Regions from separate parts of the Homo sapiens genome. Here all the other regions are reported to be linked to region 1. Evidence: microRNA targets listed by miRTarBase, many of them from high-throughput screens and not tested one by one. Region 1 holds a microRNA gene; each other region holds the end of a gene's coding sequence.

What was found. The annotated mature microRNA hsa-miR-4490 reads UCUGGUAAGAGAUUUGGGCAUA and lies in region 1 at 2,777-2,798, shown strand. An mRNA with a match to its seed (bases 2 to 7 or 8) in the 3' UTR can be bound and repressed. Matches are read on the target gene's strand: a 7mer-m8 pairs with bases 2 to 8, a 7mer-A1 pairs with bases 2 to 7 and ends in A, and an 8mer does both.
Region 2: miRTarBase lists BARHL2 as a target of hsa-miR-4490. Seed matches in the 3' UTR shown: 7mer-m8 at 3,481-3,487.
Region 3: miRTarBase lists SOX12 as a target of hsa-miR-4490. Seed matches in the 3' UTR shown: 7mer-m8 at 2,561-2,567.
Region 4: the mRNA of SLC24A2 is a reported target of hsa-miR-4490. Seed matches in the 3' UTR shown: 7mer-A1 at 467-473.
Region 5: the mRNA of NUDT16 is a reported target of hsa-miR-4490. Seed matches in the 3' UTR shown: 7mer-A1 at 830-836.

Annotation. Positions count from the first base shown.
Region 1 is chr11:90,554,100-90,558,582 of GRCh38, reverse strand. It overlaps MIR4490 (microRNA 4490), which reads left to right and starts at 2,726; the gene lies at 2,726-2,809. All of the region lies in intron 2 of DISC1FP1 (DISC1 fusion partner 1), which reads right to left.
Region 2 is chr1:90,708,684-90,712,683 of GRCh38, forward strand. It overlaps BARHL2 (BarH like homeobox 2), which reads right to left. Exons shown (of 3, transcript NM_020063.2): 3 at 2,856-3,941. The coding sequence ends at 3,629. Among named protein-coding and RNA genes, the nearest start is that of BARHL2, 6.6 kb to the right of the region's middle. RefSeq lists an enhancer at 2,301-2,869.
Region 3 is chr20:326,375-330,374 of GRCh38, reverse strand. SOX12 (SRY-box transcription factor 12) reads right to left here. Exons shown (of 1, transcript NM_006943.4): 1 at 151-4,000. The coding sequence ends at 3,503. Among named protein-coding and RNA genes, the nearest start is that of SOX12, 2.8 kb to the right of the region's middle. RefSeq lists silencers at 2,934-3,223, 3,264-3,333, 3,694-4,000.
Region 4 is chr9:19,512,676-19,516,675 of GRCh38, forward strand. SLC24A2 (solute carrier family 24 member 2) reads right to left here. Exons shown (of 11, transcript NM_020344.4): 11 at 1-3,727. The coding sequence ends at 3,478. The region is part of intron 4 of LOC105375988 (a long non-coding RNA gene); the gene reads left to right. Among named protein-coding and RNA genes, the nearest start is that of MAP1LC3BP1, 51 kb to the left of the region's middle.
Region 5 is chr3:131,382,621-131,386,620 of GRCh38, forward strand. It overlaps NUDT16 (nudix hydrolase 16), which reads left to right. Exons shown (of 3, transcript NM_152395.3): 3 at 542-4,000. The coding sequence ends at 721. Among named protein-coding and RNA genes, the nearest start is that of NUDT16, 2.8 kb to the left of the region's middle. RefSeq lists an enhancer at 1-162.

The DNA.
Region 1 (4,483 bases):
CATGCTCAACCTCAGGAGAGGGAGCCAAGTTGGGTGGGGCTTCTCTGGGCAGGCCCACCTACAGGTCCCCCAATGGCAGGCACAAGCGCCAACACCGGGGAGAATCCAGTGCCAGCCACAAAGTGCCCAGACATATGCCTAGGTGTGGCACTAAGAAACCTCCTTGGCTCCAAGTTTTCTACATGAGTATGGGTGTCATCTAAACACCGAACCCAGGAGAGTGAGTTCTCCAGATGCCTGAAGATCTACCTAGGTGTGAAGTGTAGAAGGCTTTGCTTCATCACAATCTCTGTACAAGAAGGGTAGAGTGGCTCAGGCTGCTGTTTCAAGTGAGTGGGTGCTCTAAATGCCTGGAGATCTGCCTGGGATAGAGCAGGGAAAGCCCCACTGCACGATGATCTATGCACAGGTAGGGAGGGGTGGGTGAGTCTGCTGATATACCAGATAAGCAGGTGCTCCAAATGCCCGGAGATTTGCCTGGGCATGGAATGGATAGGGCCTTAACATACCATGATCTCAAGGGTGAAGGCTGGGATACCCAGCAGTGACACAAGCCACCAAGCTGGCCCTGGCTTCATGTCACCAGCTAGAAGAAACTGCAGCAGTAGCAGCTCTTCTCTAGCCCCAGGCTTGTGATGGGGGAGGGCATAAATCCAGCACCTACTGCTGAGGAACTTCCCACAGTTCTATCTGTGGAGGCCCCCGTCCCACTCGAGAGCAAGCACTCCAATCTCTGGTTCGAGATTAAAATACCTGTGAGGCCACACTGATGGGTTACTAAAGAGTGACTGACATTTTATGCATCTGAATTAAAAATGGTATCCTGCTCTTGGTCCCGGGTCTTGGAAGATGCCTGCAACTTTTCCCAGTGTCTCTCTCTCTCTCAGTGTCTCCAACCTTTTCCCCAGGATAGCTCCAGGGCTTTGGAGAAATAAAGTGCTCTCCCATGTCCTGGGTTGCTCAGATTCCCAGTGCAAAAGCAAGTCACAGAGGTAAGCTTTCTGCCAATCTCACCAACTGAGGCTTAACTCATTTTTATCAGCCAGACACCATCACTGCGACAGTTTGCCCACCTTTTTCCCAGGATCTGGGATGTCTTTCACAATTGCAGTGGTTTCCTGTTTGTCTTCTTGAATTAAAGCTCAGAGAGTAGATTTTTATGCACTATTTTGCTATTTCCAAGTAGCTGAGGCACACTAAAAGCCTCTAATCTGCCATCTTGGGGAAAAAAAAAAAAAAACTTGTATTTTTCACTACAAAATTTTTAGTCTTTACCTCTGGAATTTGATTTGTATATTTTTTGGTATCTACCCTGTCATAGTTATAACTATGATAATATCCTCATCCTTTAACATCTGTGTCAGTCGTGAATTGGTTTTGTCTAAATGTTCTCCTGAATATTGTTTTCATTTTCTTGCTTTTCAGCTTGCAAAATAATAATAAATACTAAACATTAAGGATTTTGTACTTTAGGGGACAGATTTTTAATATTCTTTTTAAAAAACAGTCAAAAGTTTCATTTTGGTACTCACTTAAGTCAATTAGATAGAGTGTGTTTCTTATATGTCTTGCTAATTTTTATAAATCAAGAACAGTGTAGCATTTAGCATAGTGTTAAATTATCCTTCTAAGGCAAGAACCTTCTGTGTTCTCTACCTAATGCCTCATGAATTTCTCGATTCTCTTTGGAACAGGCACTTGTCCCAGCACCTGTTTAAGCACTAGTCACTATTTCCTCTAATAATAGAGTCTGACGTGGTTCCTTCTCAGGCCTGATACAGTTACTGTGCATGCATGAGCTTGTCAACACTCAGCTGAATATTTGAGGAGACTCCTCTGTTGATCTCTAGAGTTCTCGCTCTTTGTAGCATTCCTTTCTCTGCCCTGGTAACTCTAGTCACCTTCTTATTCCTCAACTCTTAGTTTTGTCTCCACAACACGGGAATTCAAAGGTCTCCAACTGAATGCTATCTCCCTGTGCTGCTGCCTAGAAATTCACCGCACTGAATTGGAAGAATTTTTAGGATTTATTTGTTTCTCATCTTTCAGAGATTACTTTTTTTTTTGTTTTCAAGCAACCAGTGCCTTGTTAGCCATTGTATCATGTTTTGGTTTTTTCAAGCTGTAACATACATTCATCCTTATTGCTCAATCTTGCCCAGAAGTAGAAGTTCCAATGTATTTTTTAAATGGATGAAATCATTTGGAATCATACTAGTTACAAGGTTGAAGGAAACAGTCTCAATTACATTGCCTAGAATAACAGATTGTAACATTTTTGTTATAATAGTTAAATAGTTTGAACATCTAGGCTGTCAAGTGTAACAACGAATCTCTGTCTTGGTGCAACAAACTGTTCTGAAGTAACCACTTTGAAGAGTTGGGCCTTCTCAAAGCCTGAAGTTGTGAAAGTAATTTCTGATTCAACAACCAGCTAAGAATGACTAGAAATTATCTATTCAATATAATAAAATATTGTGAGTGTTTTGTAAAATTATCACAGAAGAGAAGAAGCTGGTGTGTAAAGCAGAAGAGTTTTAAAATAGGAAAATCAAAGTTCCAACATTTTAAGTGAAATAGTAAAAGATATGTGACCTTGTTTTGTACCTTAGGCTGATTAAGTGTAATGATCATTACACAAATAATCATTCATGGATTTTTATTTATATAGTTTGGAATTTTTATTTATATATATAGTTTGACATTTTTTATTTAAGTATGTAGTATAGTTTCTGCAATGCTCAAATCTCTGGCCAAAGACCAGAACTTAATGGTCTCTGGTAAGAGATTTGGGCATATTAGAAACTAAACTAATTACCCCAAAATGTCAGAGATAGACATTATTACGTTCTCACTGGAGTCTCTGGCTTTTTAAATACATTTTTAATTTTTTTTCTTTTTTTTGTTATCAGATATACTGAAAATTCAGTTAAGCCACACTCAGTGGGGCATAAAGTATGAGTTCATGAGTATCTGCACTAGGACAAATAAAATAAGCATCTCACTAATGTAATTATCATCTGTCTATTTAAAACCTATCACAATATTTGAAATATACTAAACACTAAATAAATGTTTGCCGATTGAGTGAATTAGCAGAAGGCATGTTAGAACATGGGCTATTGATGGGGTTTTTAACAATAAGTGATATAAAAAGGTTACTTGGTGAGAGAAGCTCAAAATCACAAAAGACTTCAAAAGTTAGAGATATGATTAAAAGACTAAGTAATGGGAATAATTTATTTGGAAAGAGAGAGAGGTGAGAGAGAGTTAGTATTGTTTGTGTCAATGTCCACTTGCTTTTCATAACAGTTCCATTTCATAGGATAATGTACAAAAATATTACAAATTATACATGAGAAGGTAAATTTACTTTTGCAAAGTGTTTTAGCAACATGTATGTTACATAGAAATTATTTACAACAAAGAATATGTGTGCAGAGGGAACATTTTGGGTAAAAGCATAGGCTGATTTCTTCATGGACCTGTGCAACCTCTAAACCTTCCTTCCTTTATGAATGCACTGAAATCCTACACATAGGACTTTGACTTCATAATGGATTCTGAGAGCAGTAATTCAACTTATGTTATAAATAACTGATCTCTCTGACCTCATCTTGAATATAGTTCTTAAAAGTATTTACTGAATTAATGGATGTTTAGGACAGAGGCCTTAACCAGAAGGGAGACAGGAAAGGGGAGAAGGAGAAGAAAAGAAGGAGGGAGGGAGGGAAAGAGAGAGATAGTAAGACATCAGGACATGCTGAAAGCCAGTGGATGAGATAAAAATCATGAAACCATATCATGGTAGAAAGATAAAACAAAAGGGAGACGCTGGAGCTGCACTGTCCATTACTGCAGCCAATAGGCAGGTGTGGCTAATGAGCATCTGACATTTGACTCCTCCCAATTGAGATTTGCTATGAGTGTAATATATACAGTAAATCTGAAAACTTATTAAAAAAAACCTTGTTAATGACTTCATATTGAATATACCATCATGAGCCACATTACAAACTGTTGGTCAACAACTGATTGCATGTATAACGGTAGCTTCATAAAATTATAATAAGGTAATTTTACTGTGCCTTTTCTATGTTTAGATGTTTAGATACGCAAGTATTTATCATTGTGGTACAACTGCCTATAGTATTCAGTACAGTAACATGCTGTATAGATTTGTAGCAATAGGCTATACCATATACCCTAGGTGTAGGGTAAGCTATCCCATCTAGGTTTGTGTAAGTACACTCTCTGATGTTTGCACAATCATGAAATTACTTAACAATGCATTTCTCAGAACGTATCCCTGTCATTAAGTGATGGATGACATACATTGAAAACTATGTTTTGGACATATTGGGGTAAATTAAATAACTATTGAAATGAATTTTACCAGTCTTTTCACTTTTATAGCATAGCAACTAGAAAATGTATAATTAAATATGTGGTTTACATTTGTAACTCACATTATATTCACATT
Region 2 (4,000 bases), not on the chromosome of region 1:
AGATTTGTGTAGGTTTGCTGGGGTCCCTGAGCTGATCTTGGTGTTGGCAAATCTAAGAGGCCTTTGTAGGTCTTTAAACGTCTCTCTGAAATAACTTTGTATTACTGTGTTTCTGTAGGAAGCAAAGATTGCCACTGAAAATCTCTGTTTTTCTAGCCTCCGACTTAATCAAAGGAGCAATCTAAATGGAGTCCAGCCACGGAGTGCCCTTCAGACACCAGCTGAAGGTGGGAAAAAAGAAAAAGAGTACAGTTCCCAGGGACAGCTGTCCTCTGCTTCTCTGTAACTCCAGATTTCCCATGAGAATAGGCCTCTGCCTGTTACCTTGTTCCTTGCTTCTCAGAAAACCTGGAGTTGCACTCTTCACCTCCTAGCCAACCTCCTAATTTAGTTGAGCAGGCACAGAAGGAAAGAAGGACCCTTTGTGAAGAAAAAAATTGAGTTTGCATTTGACTTTTAAGCAGGTGACTTTTGAATACTAGGGCACCTGCTGAGGTGCCCTTTGCAGTACTGCTGCAGAAAAAGAAGGAAAGAAAAGAAAGAAAAGGAAAGGAAGAAAGAAAGAAAGAAAGAAAGAAAGAGAGAAAGGAAAATAAAAGAAAAAAAGAAAGGAAGGAGAGAAGGGAGGGAGGGAGGGAGGGAGGGAGGAAGGAAGGAAGGAAGGAAGGAAGGAAGGAAGGAAGGAAGGAAGGAAGGAACCAGGCACCCACCCAACTTTCTTCCTGGGACAATATCCCCCACCCCACAACATCCAATCTGCCAACTTGTATGCAACAGCAGGTAACCAAACAAATTTAGAAAGGACATTGACACATTCAGCTGCATGATTTAGGGGGTGAAAGAAAACATGACTTTGAAGAAACTTGGATTTGGGGAGGACCCTAATGGATCCTGAGTAATTGCTAGCAGCAGAGCAATATGAGGTTGATTAAGAGATCTTGGTCTCTGTAGGCACAGTGCTTCCCCCTGCATTGTCCACCTCAGGAGTCCAAGTTCAGCCTTGAGTGTAAAGCGGCAGTGGGCAGACTTCCCGGCCCACCATCCTGCAGGTGGCTGGGGACTGCTGGCAGCAAATGGGTGCTCTGGCCTTATTTGGATTTGTAGTTTTGTGTGTTTTTCATACCTGGATCTGAGTTAATTCTTTGTAAAGATTCTTTGTATGCATAAACTCTGTGGCCTCTCAAATCCCTCCTTGTGCCTAGAGTTGACCAGCCCCAGTTTCAGTGCAAACAGAAGCTATAGCACCCTCAAACCTTGGAGAGTGCCTTTTTAGGCCTAGGCAGACCACTTTTAAACTGTTTAAACTTGATCAAAAAACCCAACTGCAAGATGAAACAAGGAGGGTCTGCTAAGTGCCTAGGTATTGGACATCCTAACTGGACATAGCGGCGCCCAATTTCCAGCCAAGCCCAGCTAGCTGAGTTTGTCTCAGCTAAGCAGGCAGAAAATGAGAAGGGCCAGTCCAGACCCTTTTGTTAGAATCAAACAAGACCAAGACCAAGTTTAAAGCAAACTGATGAGCTGGAGAGAAATCTGCAAACCACTTCCTAATTAGCCAAGGTCTGATCAAGGTGCCCCCAGGCAATTTCCACCTGGATTTCACTTTTCTTCCCTCCTTCTTTCCCACCCCTCCTAAATATACATTCCCACATCACTTCACATTTTTAAAAACATTTTTAACTACACTAAGGTTCAACCATCAGAGAAAGTTGGAGGCCAGGTCCAGATGTATTTTAGCTGCTTGTATTACCCCTTTGTCACTGTACTAGGGCAGGAGTGAGGATAGAAATGTGAGGATGCCCAGATAGGAGGTCTGACTCTGGCTACTCAGGAAGTGACCCGGGGGCTGGAGAGGAGTAGGAGCAACCTGGGAACTGTATGCTCCACTAAGTGGCTCCTTCATACAGTCCTGAGCACTGAGCCTGGTGGGGAGCCAGCCTGGCGGGGGGTGAGGGGTGGTGCTTATGACTGACTTAGGCCAGGGTGCTACAAACATTTACTTACATACACACACTCACACACACTCCTAAAGCAGGCAGCGGGCCTCCTCCACACTCTGGGCAGGGTCTCCTATTTTGCAGTCCCAGCTGTCCCAGGGGTGCAGATAAAAGGCTTGGCAGCCAGTCTCAGCCTGAGTTCACCGTTGCAAAGGAACTCCAGGCATCGCAGCACAACGAACTCACTAGGACAAGCGGCTCCGCATGGGGCTGGGGGCTGGACGCCCGCCGCCAGGGACTGAGAAGGCAACGATCAAAGCCGCCACAAGGGTTTGTTAGCTGGCCCTCTCCAAGTCCCCCGGGGGCGTCCTAATTGCTCGTCCCACAGCCTCCCGCTCACAGGCTGTCCGACCTCGCCGGCGCTCAGCCGCGGGCAGCAGAACAGCTGCGAGGCTCGAGGAGCGTCCGCCTGCCGCCCAGCCCCTGCCGGCGTTGTCATCGCTGCCCAGCGCTTCGGACCCTCGCTGCCCCAGGAAGACCCCTAGAAGAAGGAGGAGGGGAGGACAGAGGGATCACCACACCGGTGAAGCTGGGGCCTCTATGCAGGTCAGGACGGCAGCAAAGTTGGCCGCCGACTTAGCCAGCACCCGCAGCCTGCAAGTACAGATTTTCTCCCACAGCCTCCTGGGTTGCTTTGAAACCATCCATTTAAAAAGAAAGGAACTCATACATATCAAATAATGGTTCGGAAGAGGCCAGCACGAAAAATGGAGCTGCTTTTATACAAGCCAACCCAACCTCTTTACGGATTTTGTAAATTCCTAATATTTCAGAAGAAATTTGTTGTTCTAAACCAAGTCAGCACTTCATCATAGTACATTCTGCTTTAGTAAAATCAGCTCCCTTGGATTTCATCACTTGTTAAAAAAAGATAAACTTTATTTTTGTAATTTTCAATCACAAAAAAATCTATATTTTTGTCTAAGCATTTATTTTACTGAATCGAAAAGACATGAAAAGAAAAATCATGTTTTTACTAACGTATATAAGTGACTCTTTTTGGACAACATATAATAAATATGATATATCACTTATCACTCAGTCTTTCAAATGTACATTTTTTTCATATTATGGAGCATGCCACTTTTCCAAAAGAAAAAAGGTCATGAGAAATCAGTGCAAAGTTCTCAGTTACCCTCCTCTTTTCTCTGGGGCAGACGGAATGTCCTCGGCAACGCCCTTTGCCTCAGCACTTGAGGCTGTCCATATATAGTTCACTCTGCCTGTGCTGTTTCCGCTCCGTGCCCTTCTTTCTTCCCTCCTTAGCCCTCCCCCCTCCCTCCCTCCTGCTTGTCCCTAAAGTCATTTTTGAAAAAGAATTTGAGGTTTTGTTTTTGTTGATGTTTTCACTTACTGGTTGCACTCTGTGTGGGGTCAGCATTTTCACCAGTCACACTGCTGTGGGGGAGATTTCCAGCCCTGTTTCTAGGGGTGGGGAGATGGAGAGCAGAGGGCTGGCTCCTCTTTGGGGGTCCCCTGCCCACTGGTAAGCATCTTCCTCTCTTACTCCTCTGCCTTCCAGAGTTGGCTGCAAGGGAGGCCTAGTGGCCTGGAGCAGGGAGAGGACGGGCAGCAGTCCGGGTTGGGCAGGGATATGGGGAAGGGATTGCAGTGCCTTCGCTGCAATGTTTTCACCGGGGGTGTGGGGTGCCTGGGATGGGGCTGGACAATGGATTAAGGGCTGGCTGTCCCCCAGGCCCTAGGCCGTGGATGAGCACACGGGGCACCAGGGGCCGCTGCAGCTGGGGATGGGGTGCTGGAGGAGTCCGGTACATGCTGCTGTACATGGCAGCGGCAGCCGCCGCCGCCGTAGTGCTGTCCATGCTGCCCAGCAGGCTTGGGTGATAGAAATAAGGCGATGGAAACATCCTCTGCAGCGCCGAGTAGTTCCCTGCCTCGGCCAGCAACTCCAGGCCCACCGCTGTCTGCCGCTTCCACTTGGTCCTGAAAGAAAGCGGGTGTGCAGGCACCCAGCAGCTGTGGGCATGGTCCAGGCACCAAGA
Region 3 (4,000 bases), not on the chromosome of region 1:
TGATGGCATCGGTGAACAGACTCTTGACATTAGGATACATCCGACCGGCCTAGCTGCAGTTGCTGGGCCACTGACCCAATTCCCTTTGTCCAGTCTCTTGAACCCTCTGTTGTAGACTGGGTTTCTCTAGAAACAGACAATGAGACTGAGTTTGGGTTGCAAGATGTTTATTAGGAATAAGCACCTGTGAAAAGAAGAGGAAGAAGAGGAAGCAGGCCTGGGCATAGGAAGTCAAATTGTGCTGCAGGCCTGACGAAGCCCTGGCTGGCCTGGGCCTGCTGGGAGTACTGTCTGTCAGTGTCCGTCCCATGTTGGATTGAAATGACCAGGTGTTTATACCATGCCTCACTCAGACACCAGATACAGGCTGCCCCAGGAAGGGCGTGGTCTCAGGTGAAGTGGCTCTCTGCAGCTGCGGCCACCCTGATGGCACTTCCCATAGCTGGGGAAGTCCTCCCTTGAAGGGAGTTCTGGGGGCAGCTGTCCCTATCTTCCACACCTTCTCAACTCTACCTCCTCTTACTTCGCCAGCTTGCTTTCAACCAGAGAAGCTGAGAAGAAGCAGTCACTGTAATTTCCACACTCAGCCCTGGCTCCTACTGGGAAAACAGAGGCTTTGTCCCAGCTTAGGAATACACTGGATCTGACAGATGAGAATTAGGGGGAGGGGTGTCAGAGGGACAAAGGAGGGAAAAGCCTTGGACTCAGTTGTAAAACACCAGTCAGAACCTCAAAGACAAGAATCACTAGACTTCTGTTGCTCTTTGGTCATTCAGTTAATCTACTCTGCAGGCCAATGTGCGCCAGGCACTGGGACCAATCCCACCACTCCAGGCCCTCAGCTGGGGGCCTAACACAATCTGCAGATTCAAACAGGGAGGGAGAGGCAGCACCCCGAAGCCATGCTTCACCAGGAAGCAGAACCAAGCCCTGTCTCTGACCCTGGCTGCTTGCAGGCCCTCCTTTAAGTTGCTTTCCTGCCTGACCCCGTTTCCTCCTCTGACAATGGAGTAACACGATGGGCACCATGGTGAATGCTTCTCACCTCAAACTTCATTTCATCCTGTGAAGCAGCTATTATTATTATCCCCACGTTATACATATGGAAAGAGTCACACGGGTGCTCAGTGGTGGAGCTGGGCTTTGAGTCCAGACAGTGTGGCCCAATCTTGCTTCTTAGTCCTCATTAAAGGCACAGAAAGGCATGGCCAAGCCAGCCCCCTCGGACCAGACCTGCCTGCATACTTGTTTCATTTGGCCCACAGAAATTTTAAAATATGAGTCTCATTTTGAAATTAAGATGACTCAGAAACATCCATCCAGCTTTTCTTGAAAAATCTGGCCACCTGGCCACTGTGGACTGCATTCCCACAGGGTCACAACTGGCAGGAGGTAGGCCCCTTGAAGTGGGTCATGACACCACTGTCCACCCAGAGTCACTCGTCTATGTTACCTGCCTGGTCCCTACAGGGATGAGTTTGCTATTCTTCATGAAGGCCAGGGAGTCCTGACATAGAGGCCTAGACAGGCAAGGTGGCTTGCCCTGGGACACCCAGCTCGGGCCCAAATCACACGGACTTGAATCTGGCAAACTGTTTAGGGAGGGTTGAGGAAGAGCACAGACATGCAGAACCACAGGGCAAGGTCGGGGCAAATACACTTTATTCAGTCCTGGCATCAGACTGGCGGAGTCCTGCTGTGGGTGCCAGTGCCCCAGACAGAGGGACCCCACCCCTCAGCTACGAGACTAGTTCTCCAAGACCACAGACAGTGACATCTCTTCACTCACATGACGTTTTTTTTTTCATTGTCTTTTTTTGTTGTTGTTGTTTTTCTTAAAAAAAAAAAAAAAAAAAATAGAGCGCAAGAAAGGCCCAGAGCCGGAGCACCAAGCTTAAAGGAGGCAGCTGGTGGCTTTGTCAGCGACGGGAACGCGTGGGGCAGAGACCTGCAGAGACCCTGGGCAGGGGTCCGGAGGACTCTGGGACCGTTTGTTCCTGAGATTTGTGTGTGTGAATGAGAGTGTGTGAGCCACCCGGGAGGGTGAACACACGCCGGTGAGATACAGGTAGTGAGGGCAAGGGGGGTGTGGGGAGGCCGGAGGGGCGGGGCGGGGCAGAGAGATGGCGGCGTGAGAGGGGCCACAGCAACAGGGACAGGGCTCCCGAGGGCACCCTGAACTGGACACAACTTCCTCCTAACAGCAGCGTTCTCCCCATTTCTCACGTGGAAAAACCGAGGTGCAAACGGCCCATCACTACTCGGAATCCATTCTCAGTCTCACTGGCCAAGTCGATGGTCTCTCCCAAACCAGATGTTTAAAAGCGAGAGTCTTCCTGCCATCACATCTGCTCTCCACGCCTCAGTCCCAAACCCCTAGCACCAAAGTGCCTCAGTTTTTCCCGCTGTATACTGCAGCTTGAGTACTGAGGGTGGACCTGGGTGACAGGAAGGGCCGGTGCGCTCAGGGAGGAGCCCAGGTTGCGGGTGCCCTGAGGTGAGGGGGCACTTCCCAGGAGGGGGTGGGGAAGGTGCAGCAGGGATCCTGTCCCCAGACAGACTGGTAAGGTGCCTTGGTTTTTAGTTTTCTTGGGTGGTCCCTTCCTCTACTGCTGGATTTCCAGAGAAAGACCTTACCTCTCAATTCCCAGTTGGGGGGAAAAAGGGACGTATAGGTAGGCTGTAGAGGCAGCCACGCGACCGGAGAGGTGGTGCGCGTGGGTGTAGGAGACCCCATACCGGAAAAGGGGCTATGCCACTTGGGAGAGTTTCAGGCCCAAACCAACCCTTCCGAGTGCTCCTCCCATTAAGGCAGCGACGCCCCGTTGGCTGGAGAGGAAACCTAGGGCTCCCGGATCAAAGGATTTCCCAGGATCGCTCTACACTCGCCCCCGCTTTTGCCCGGAGCGGGCGAAGAGTGCGGCTCCGCTGGGACCAGCCCCCTCCTCCCCAGAAGCATTAAGCATGCGCACGAAGGGGGTGGGCCCCAGCGGAGGGGCGGGCCCTAGCGCTCCGGGGATAAAAGGGGTGCGCCCCTCCCCCCAGGGAAGGGAGGGGCGCAGGAGGCGCGTGCGTTGCCACCCGGCCGCATCGCCCCCCTAACCCAGAGAAGGCGGGCCGGGCGAGGGAGGAGAGATTCCGGAGCAAAGGAGGGGGCGGGTCCTCCGGCCACGAGGAGGGGCGTGTGCAAAAGGGGGGAGGGGTGCAGGTCTGTAGGAGAGGACGGGAGGTGTATCGGAGGGGGCTGGCTGCTGGTGGCTGTGCAGGAGGGGGCGACGTGGGGAGGGGCTTGGGTGTCGGGGAAGGGGTGGGGGTTGGGCTGCCTTGGGGTGTGTCTGCGGGGGAGGGGCATGTCTGGATCTGAGGGGGGATGGGCACGTCCAGGAGGGGGCAGGCTGCGCGGGAGATGGGGTGCCAGCCTCGGCCTCCGAGGGGCCCCAATACCTGATTCCTGTATGTAAACAGCTGGTTTGGGGGCGTGCGCGCCCCGCTGACGGTGGGCTCAGTAGGTGAAAACCAGGTCTGCGATGCTAGACGGGCGCCAGTCCCCCGCGATCATCTCGGTAACCTCGGGGGTGCAGTAGTCCGGGAACTCGAAGTGCGACGTGCCCGAGGGAGGCTGCAGGTCCGGGTCGCGATCCAGGGCGCTGCAGTCCAGGCCGGCCGGGCCAGGGGGCAGCCTGGACAGAAAGCCCAGCGACTCCTCCCCCGACGCCACCGTCTCCTCTTCACCTTCCTCAGCCGCTGCCGCCTCCTCCTCCTCTTCCTCCGGCTCCTCGTCCTCCGACGGTGTCGGGGAGGCGGCGGCGGCGGCGGCCGCCCCCTCGCCCGACGGCCCTTGGGCGCGCTCCGCTTGTCCCCGAGCGGCCCGTCCCGCCGGGACCATCCTCCACAGCTCCCGCCCCGGGGTCTCGACCAGGCGCACTTCCAGCAGCTCCTCGTCGTCGTCTTCATCGTCGTCCTCGGGCGCCGCCGCCCCGCCCCCCAAAGGCCCTCCCGC
Region 4 (4,000 bases), not on the chromosome of region 1:
CAAGCAAGACCTGCTCGGTTTGCTGTGAATAAATGAAATCATTTGCGTGCAACTCATTTATTTTAGATTGATTAGTACAATGTTGGCTCTTGAATTGTTGATATCTTTTATACCCTGCTCCAGAGAAGCAAAGAGAGTATCTGCAGTCTAAATTTTTGCTTTGTATTTTCTGTTGTGTATTCTTTGCCTCTATATCAGCATTAGGGATATGGCTGACCGATTTCCTTAAGGCTATAAATTGATATTCTTAGGGTGGGAAAATATGGGTACATATGTGTATATTTGTAAATATATGTGCATGGAACAAACAACCTTATGAAATCAGGAAGAAATGTTCCCTTTGGTTTGTGTGCATGACTTTCCTTTTCCTTGACTTTGGCAAACTTGATGCTCCCTGCTTTAGAATCCTGAATGTGATAGGGTCAGAGGGTGATGATGTAAGTCATATTATATGTGTACATATAGATCTGGTATAAAGATATATATATATATATATATATGTATATATATATATATGTATATATTTATATATGTATATACACAGGCATGCAGGAAACGAGTTAGAGATGACCTGTTTTGGAAACCACGGTGTGGAAAGTTCTTATAATTATGCCAATGATTTGAATGGTTTAAAGACCCATTGTTGAACTCTGTACACATCTCTCTGAATTTACCCTGGCTCAACACATAACCACTTACAGACACAGAAATGAAGGGAAAGCAAGGGCAGGCTGTGGAATCACTTGTGTCCCATCCAGTGAGGGAGCAGTGCTGTTGTAGGTCAGGCTCAGTGCACATGACTGATGTGGGAACGGGGCTTGGAAATTTTGTCTTCTCAAATGCAACTTCACATGAAAGACCACAACACTTCCTGTGAAGTGGAGCTCCGAGACAAGCAAAGGGCACCATAGCTGCTTTGATCAGCCTTCACTGTAAGCTGGGAATAAATGGGAGGGAGTGAGGAGGCAGAGGGAGGATCAGGAATAAGAAGAGGGCGGCATCAGGTCTCCTTCAACTTCTGTTTTACATGGTCTGTTTGCAGTTGAGTCAGTCACCTATTTAAACCTTATTTCAAACAACGCACCAGTCAATAATATAAAATTCACACAATAACCAACTTGGTTGCCCTTCAAGAAATACACAGGGAAAACAACTGGAGTTTTTAAACGTAAAGTTCACTTCCTCATTCTTTCACTCTCTAAGGAAGCAGGACAAATTCTTGCCCCAGTACAAAGTCCTGACCTTGATGAATGAGATTCATTCCCATTAGGTGGCAGGTTCCACTCAGCGCCTCTATTGGATGGTGTTTCAATGTCTTGGAAGGCATTGTCCCACATCTGAAGACCCCAATCTGCCGAGTTGGAGAGACTTGAAAGCCAGCCTCCGACTGGCAGCCATCTTGATTTCTTGTTTTCCCAGGGGGCCTCGGGTTTGAAGTGCTTTTTACTTCTGGGTGAAGAGGAATGATGGGCATTTCCTGTTATTGCCATGCTCTGTGGGGTGAGCTGAGGTTTTCTGGAAGGAATACTGAGCTTGATCTGGGGCTGTCAGGTTACCTTTCCTCTTATTCTGCTGTGAGTTCTGCATCCTGTCCTCTTATGTTAAGAGGTATGTGCTCACAACAAAATCATAGCAGGCGTCAATGACAGAATAGATTGGAGATAGGAACACATATGGTGAAATTTCCCATATGCCATATGTACCAACTTAGACGTAGGATGGGTACAGAATAATGAACCATCCTTGATTCAATTTTTCAACTGATTTTAAGGAAAGCATGACTTGGAGAAAAGAAAAGTGCTCTACATAGTTTTCCATTGATTCAGTTTGCCTATTTTTTCCCCCTTGCTGGCTTTATTTTCGACTGACATAGATCTGAGAAAACACACAAGGTGTCATACAGAACTTGGGGGCGTGGAATATTTTAATTTCATGCATTCAATGTAATGTTGAGCAAAATCAAGAAATCAAATTGTTGGAGTGAATAGCTTGAAACCAGTATAAGGAAGCTGTCAAATACCGTGTACTCTAAAACTTAGACAGAATCCCAGATAAGGTCTTGATGGAAGAAGAGACATAGATGTTACAAGAACTTTAACCAAAGCCTGGTCCTGGTACCACTCGACCTGGCACTCAGAAACCTTCCTGGGGTGCACTGAGTGTGCAAATGCCTTTCCAAGCATCGCTAAGTTGCCTCAACCCAAGCAGTGCTGATCAGAGTTAAGTTAGTGCTATTGGGAATAATGATTTCTTCAGACACTAAAGCCCTTTATGACTACACTGGAAAACGTTTTAAAGAACTATGCCCTTACATCCCATTAGGTGGCAAGGCCCACTAAGCACCTTTACTGGATGACTTCTTATTGCACATCTAGGCTCTCTTGGCAGCCCTTAGCATCAAAATATATCTACATGACAATCACAGCTAAACTTACCCCTCTTCTTTTGATGATAATGGGACATGCGCTGGAAAAATACAGGTTCAGTTTATATAGTCTTGCTGTCCTAGAAAAAGCACTAATTTGGTTTGTAGTCATATTTTCTACTTGCATGCTGGGACAATATAAGAACAAAACAAAACAACCCAACCCTGGTTACCTCCCCACTTCCCCAAACCAAGCCACCCAGCCTGGGTTTTTACCTCTTTCTGTCCTAAGTACCCTGAGTTTCTTGGTCAGGGTACTCTGGTGGAGGTGGGCAGATAGTCTCTCTGTTTGGCTTGTAGGAATGTTTTGGAAGGCTCAACTCAGGGCCCCTACAGACCTTCTCCACTAAGCCCTCCTCCCTGCAAGCTATTTCCCTAAACCATCTACCTTACTAGGCAGGATCACAGCAAGTCCAAGGTAGGCTGAAGGTCACAGCAATGCTACCTTTGTCTTGTTGGTTCCATTAGTTCACCTCTTGTACTTAAGAGGTAAAGCCCAGACTGCAAGTTGATGCCCCTCTTCAAATAAGTACTATAAATATACTAGAGCTATCCCTGAAAAGATGCATTTGTACTTTTATATATATCTGATTTTATATATATATATATAATTTTTCTTTGTCTTTATTTACAGGTATGTACTAATCTATAGGTATGCAAGGAGAGGTATAGTACAGGAACAGGCAGGATTTGTGTGTTCATGTGCGTATATTTATAATATGTGTATTTATAGATATATATAGCCTGTGTCCTTGTTTGCATCGACTGTACCTCCGACCAGCGAGGTGTACTTGTCAGTGGTGAATAGGGAGAAGCCCTGTATTGACGGTTCTCTTTGTCTTTTACATGAAGTCATTTCAGTAGGCAGGGTGGAAGCAGCCTGTGAAGTGAATGGGCCCAGTGTGAATCCATCTCTCCTCAAATTCACCAAGGAGGGACACTTGGCACCCAGGGCTGTGTGCCAGCTGCCTCTTCTCAAGAGGTCAAGGAGCCCAGAGCCCAGAGTGTGGAGGGACCATTCATGCTGCTGGTGCAAGATATGGCTTTTCCTGCTAGATGGAGACGGGGCATGTAAGAATTCTGTCTTCTAGGAGAACGCTCACCACCAGGAACACAAAGTAGAGGCCAAACATGATGAAGCCCAGGATTTTGTTCATTCGCCACTTGCAGAGGGCGATAGAGAGGATGACGAAGAGCAGCATGATGAAGAGAAGGACGATGGCACAGAAAAGGCCATTGCTGCTGACAGCCACTGGCTGGAATCTGTGAATGACGGTGTACAGGAGCCAGGGCAGTGGGAGCCTGTGCAGAAGTGAAGCAGGGCAGAGGGGAGTGGGAAGACAAGGGAGTAGTCAGACACGTTGAAGAAGGCAAATATAACCTATTATTACCTTCTCAGGAACTCTAAACTGAAAAGGGTGTCTTGTTAGGTTCACTATGACTCGGGCATGGTTGGCCCAGGAAACCACTTTATAAGGAAATAAGACTTTAAAAACCTTTATGTCCTGACTGAATTCAGAACAGGGAGAACAGTTAGACAACATCAAAGACATGACTGCTGTGGGTGATTTCTAC
Region 5 (4,000 bases), not on the chromosome of region 1:
CCTAGGTTTTATTCTTGGGGTTTGCTTTTCTTGTGTAGGAGATGTGGCCCTGATATTTCAGGCAGGGCTAGTAGATAGATTATGTATGAAGGTGGTTCTCAAAATTTGGCAGGTAGCAGAATCATCGGGGCGTCTTATTAAAATAGCGATTTCTCTCAGCATTCCTGCATTGGTGGTGGGGCGGGGGGAGAGGAAACCTGAGAATTTGTAGTTTTCAAAAGTTCCCAAATAATGCTGATGCAAATAATCTGAGGACCACATTTTGACAACCACTGGTGAAAGGGTATGAATACATCTTTGAGGCAGTAGCCACTAGAGGTTTAGAAGCAGATGTGGGAAAGATTAATTGATAGAGCTAGATAATATGTTTTGGGTCATTTTCCTGCAGAAGGTTGGGCCACTAGGCTTTAGTGAGGTGTGAGCCTTGGGCCTGGTTCTGCTGGAGTATTAAGGGGTGAGGCCTGATCTGCTGGAGAAAGGATGGAGTTAAGGGAATGAGCCACCTGGGGCCCTAGTGTCTCCTGTCTCCTTCCTTTTACAGGTGCTGGGCCTGGTGCGAGTGCCCCTGTATACCCTGCGGGATGGTGTAGGAGGCCTGCCTACCTTCCTGGAGAATTCCTTTATTGGCTCTGCGCGGGAGCAGTTACTTGAAGCTCTCCAGGACTTGGGACTGCTGCAGTCTGGCTCTATTTCAGGCCTTAAGATTCCAGCTCATCACTAGAGGCAGCCCTCCATGGACCCATGAAAACTGAGATGAGGACCTTGGTACTAGGGAGGGAGGGAAGGACGTGGGAATGTTTTCTTATTGGATCTGAGAGATGATACATGATACCAGATGAAAAGAAGGAGAAGTGTGTACCATATGTTTTGAGCAGAGGACCCTCCAACTTATGGCATCAGGGGCAAAAAGTCACAGCTTATCCCAGGCACCCTGGCAGGTTCTCAGAGCCTGCCTCCTCCCTGTTTATATGCGTACAGCCTGGTAACCCCCAGGCATGCAAATATACAATCTGTAACAACACACAGCCTGACACCTTCCCCTGGTCATGTCCAGTTTAACCTTGAAGTGGCATTTGTCACACTACCCTGGTCCCTGATTGCAAGGAGCTTCTGAAGCAAGGGTGAATCCTTCCCACACTCCTCCATGGTTGCCCTCCAGGGTCTAGCCCAGCCTATTTGTTAGGGAGGATAGAGAAACAGAGCACCCCCTGTGCTTTCTGAAAATAGACTTGCTCTTGTCTTGAGTGGTGACCAAAGCAGTTGGCTCTTAAAAGGTGGGAGAGCAGCCCAACCAATCCCCAATCCTTTTCTTCTGAAACTGAGCAGGAAGGGTAAGGAAGTGGCTAGGTCTCCTTGGACTGAGCATGGACATGAGTCCTGTGAGGACTGGTGTCTCTCCTCTAGAGCTTTCATCTTTGGGATGCCTGAGACTCCGAGACTATCAGAAGGGAATTGACCCACCCCAGTCTAGCACCACCCTGCCTTCACTTCATCTACATAAAGGTGGTATAAAAACATAGACTGGAGGAGGTAATCCATGGAGAGAGAAAAAGAAGAGGGCTCAGGACAAGGCCCTGAGGAGGCCCAATCCTAAAAGTTTGGGCAGAGGGAACCAGGCACGTTAAAGAAGACAGAAAGCGGACTATGCAGAGTGCTTGTGAGGGTTTCACTAAAACAGAGGCAAAACTGTCCATTGAATTCAGTAACATGAAGTGTTTGATGACTATGATGGCAGCAGTTTCAGGAAGGGCGGTATGGAAGGCAGGCTGTACTGGTTGAGTGAATGGAAAGTTGGGGAGTAGAACGTGTGAGAAGTTGGCCTTCAAGGGGCTCAGGTTAATAATAGAGAGCTATGGAGTCAAGGCATGTTTAAGATGGGAGGTAGAGCATGCCAATATTGATGGCAACAGTCAAGATGGTGTGATGAGAGAGATGGGAGGGGCACAAAGAGGAGGACCCCTGAAGGAGCAGAGTCCATGAGAAAGAAGGAGGGATGGGACCTTTGTAGGAAGAGACACAGTCCTGCAGCCTCATATGGCTCAATAAAACAGAAAGGGGCAAGTATAGAAGATTAGGATGACTAAATTAATGGGGAAATGATGAAGGAGTTTGAATCTCTTCTTTGTGAAATGAAGTGAGACTATCAGCTAGTTGTGGGTGGAGTGTGTTCTCAGAAGGTATGAAGTAGATGTTTTCCTAGGTGTTGGAAAACAGGTTGATTAAGGCAACAGCAGAAGGGCAGGGCAAGGCTGAGCTCTGAGATGGTCAGTTTAGAGTAGGATGCTGGGCACTCAGGTGTGTGTGTGTTGAGTGGGGCTCTGCACACACCTGTCTTCCCCTCATCAGGATTCAGGAGCTGGGATGGGTACACTTACTGCAGTGTTGGGGTTTTGCCAGGGAAGTAAAAGGAGTTGAGAGAAAGATGGGTCAGTTCAGAAGACATACACAGGAGAAATTGTAGTGATGAAATGTGCAGTCTAAGGTTTAATCTGACCAAGAAATTGGAATTGAAAACAGGAGGTGACTAGGGAGGGATTAGGAAATTAGAGGTCTTGACAAGATAGAAACTCCAGCATGGTGAGGGGTTGGGCAGGGAGGTATATTTGAGCCAGACAGGAGTGCTTTGGAAATTGAGAGGTGGAGCAATCTCAGGTAAAGGCAAAATAGAGGGTATGACCTGGGGTTGCTGGCCAGAGCCAGGGAGGAGCCTTAAGAAGTGAAATCTAGGGTTGGCGAGGCTGGAGGGCAGGGTGAGCCTCCACATGGGTGCTGAAGCAAGAAACCGACAGATGTTGAGGAGAATGGTGTGACCTAGGAGTCAGCATCCTTGGTGAACAAGAGGAGTGGCCACAAGGCCAGTGGCACCTGCCAGAGGGGAAAGCAGGCATGACAGGATAGCATCTCCCAGGTGAGAGCCTTTTGAGGAAGGGAGGGTGGGCAGTGGTCTGGAAGCTTGATGCAGAGCAGTGTGGGTCCCACTGGCAGCCCTTGGTCTTAGAAGAATGGGAGTACCCAGTGGGGGAGCAGCTGTACAATGAGGTAGACTCCTAGAGGTTAATTATCATCTCCTAATCTTACCCTGACCCTTTTGTCAAACGTTATCTAGATTAAACCTCAGTATAGGCAGGCTGCAGGAAATGGACATTCCAGTGGCCCCTGGGGTTCCAGCCTGTAGCAGCTTCATCTGTGCTTTGTGCACTTGGTTCTCAGTCATCTCTGCAAGGGACCCTGACGCCTGGGAGATCAGAGCCACTGACCCTTTATGGCACTGCTAACAGACCCCTTCCCTCAGGTAATTCTGGATCCAGAACTCATTATGGGATGTAATCCAGGTCAACACTAATACCACTTGGAAGGTTCCGCTCTGTCTCACTCTGCTTGAGTATCCCACTGATCAGTCTCTCAGTGCCTGCCTACTGGGCAGCTCATCTGTCCACTTATTCGTATTAAATTTGCTTTTTATTTAGGTCTCTGGAGATGGTTGCGTGGGGAAGAGCCCATGACTTTCCTATATGATCCCTTGAACATACTCTCCAAGTCAGTAGATTACCTCTCAGGCAGCCTTCATAAAAGTGTTTCACTGTACTGGGGTTTGTGTTCATCTCACTCACATAGACAGTCTCTGGGTAGGCAGGTGGGGGGTGATACAAGTTCACACTCTGTGTTTCTCCTCCTGTTAGCCATTCCCACCCTGCTGATGTTTAAGGAAAGCCAGGGATGATGACCCACTTAAGCTTTCCTTGGCCTTGTTAAGTCCAATCATCTGGGGCAGGAAGAAGAGAAATGCTCATTGCAATCTTTGACCCCCACTAACTGCTGTGGTGACTTTGACCCAAGCCCTTGACCTCCTTTTCCTTATCTGAAATGTTGCTGTGATTCCTGTGGTGAGATCAGATGAGGCAGCACTTGGGATAAGCTTGCAGAGATGCATTGAGCGGTATGAAAGTACAGGATGCTATGTACTTTCCTGCTTCACAGCACATTTTGTTTCTTGCAAGGT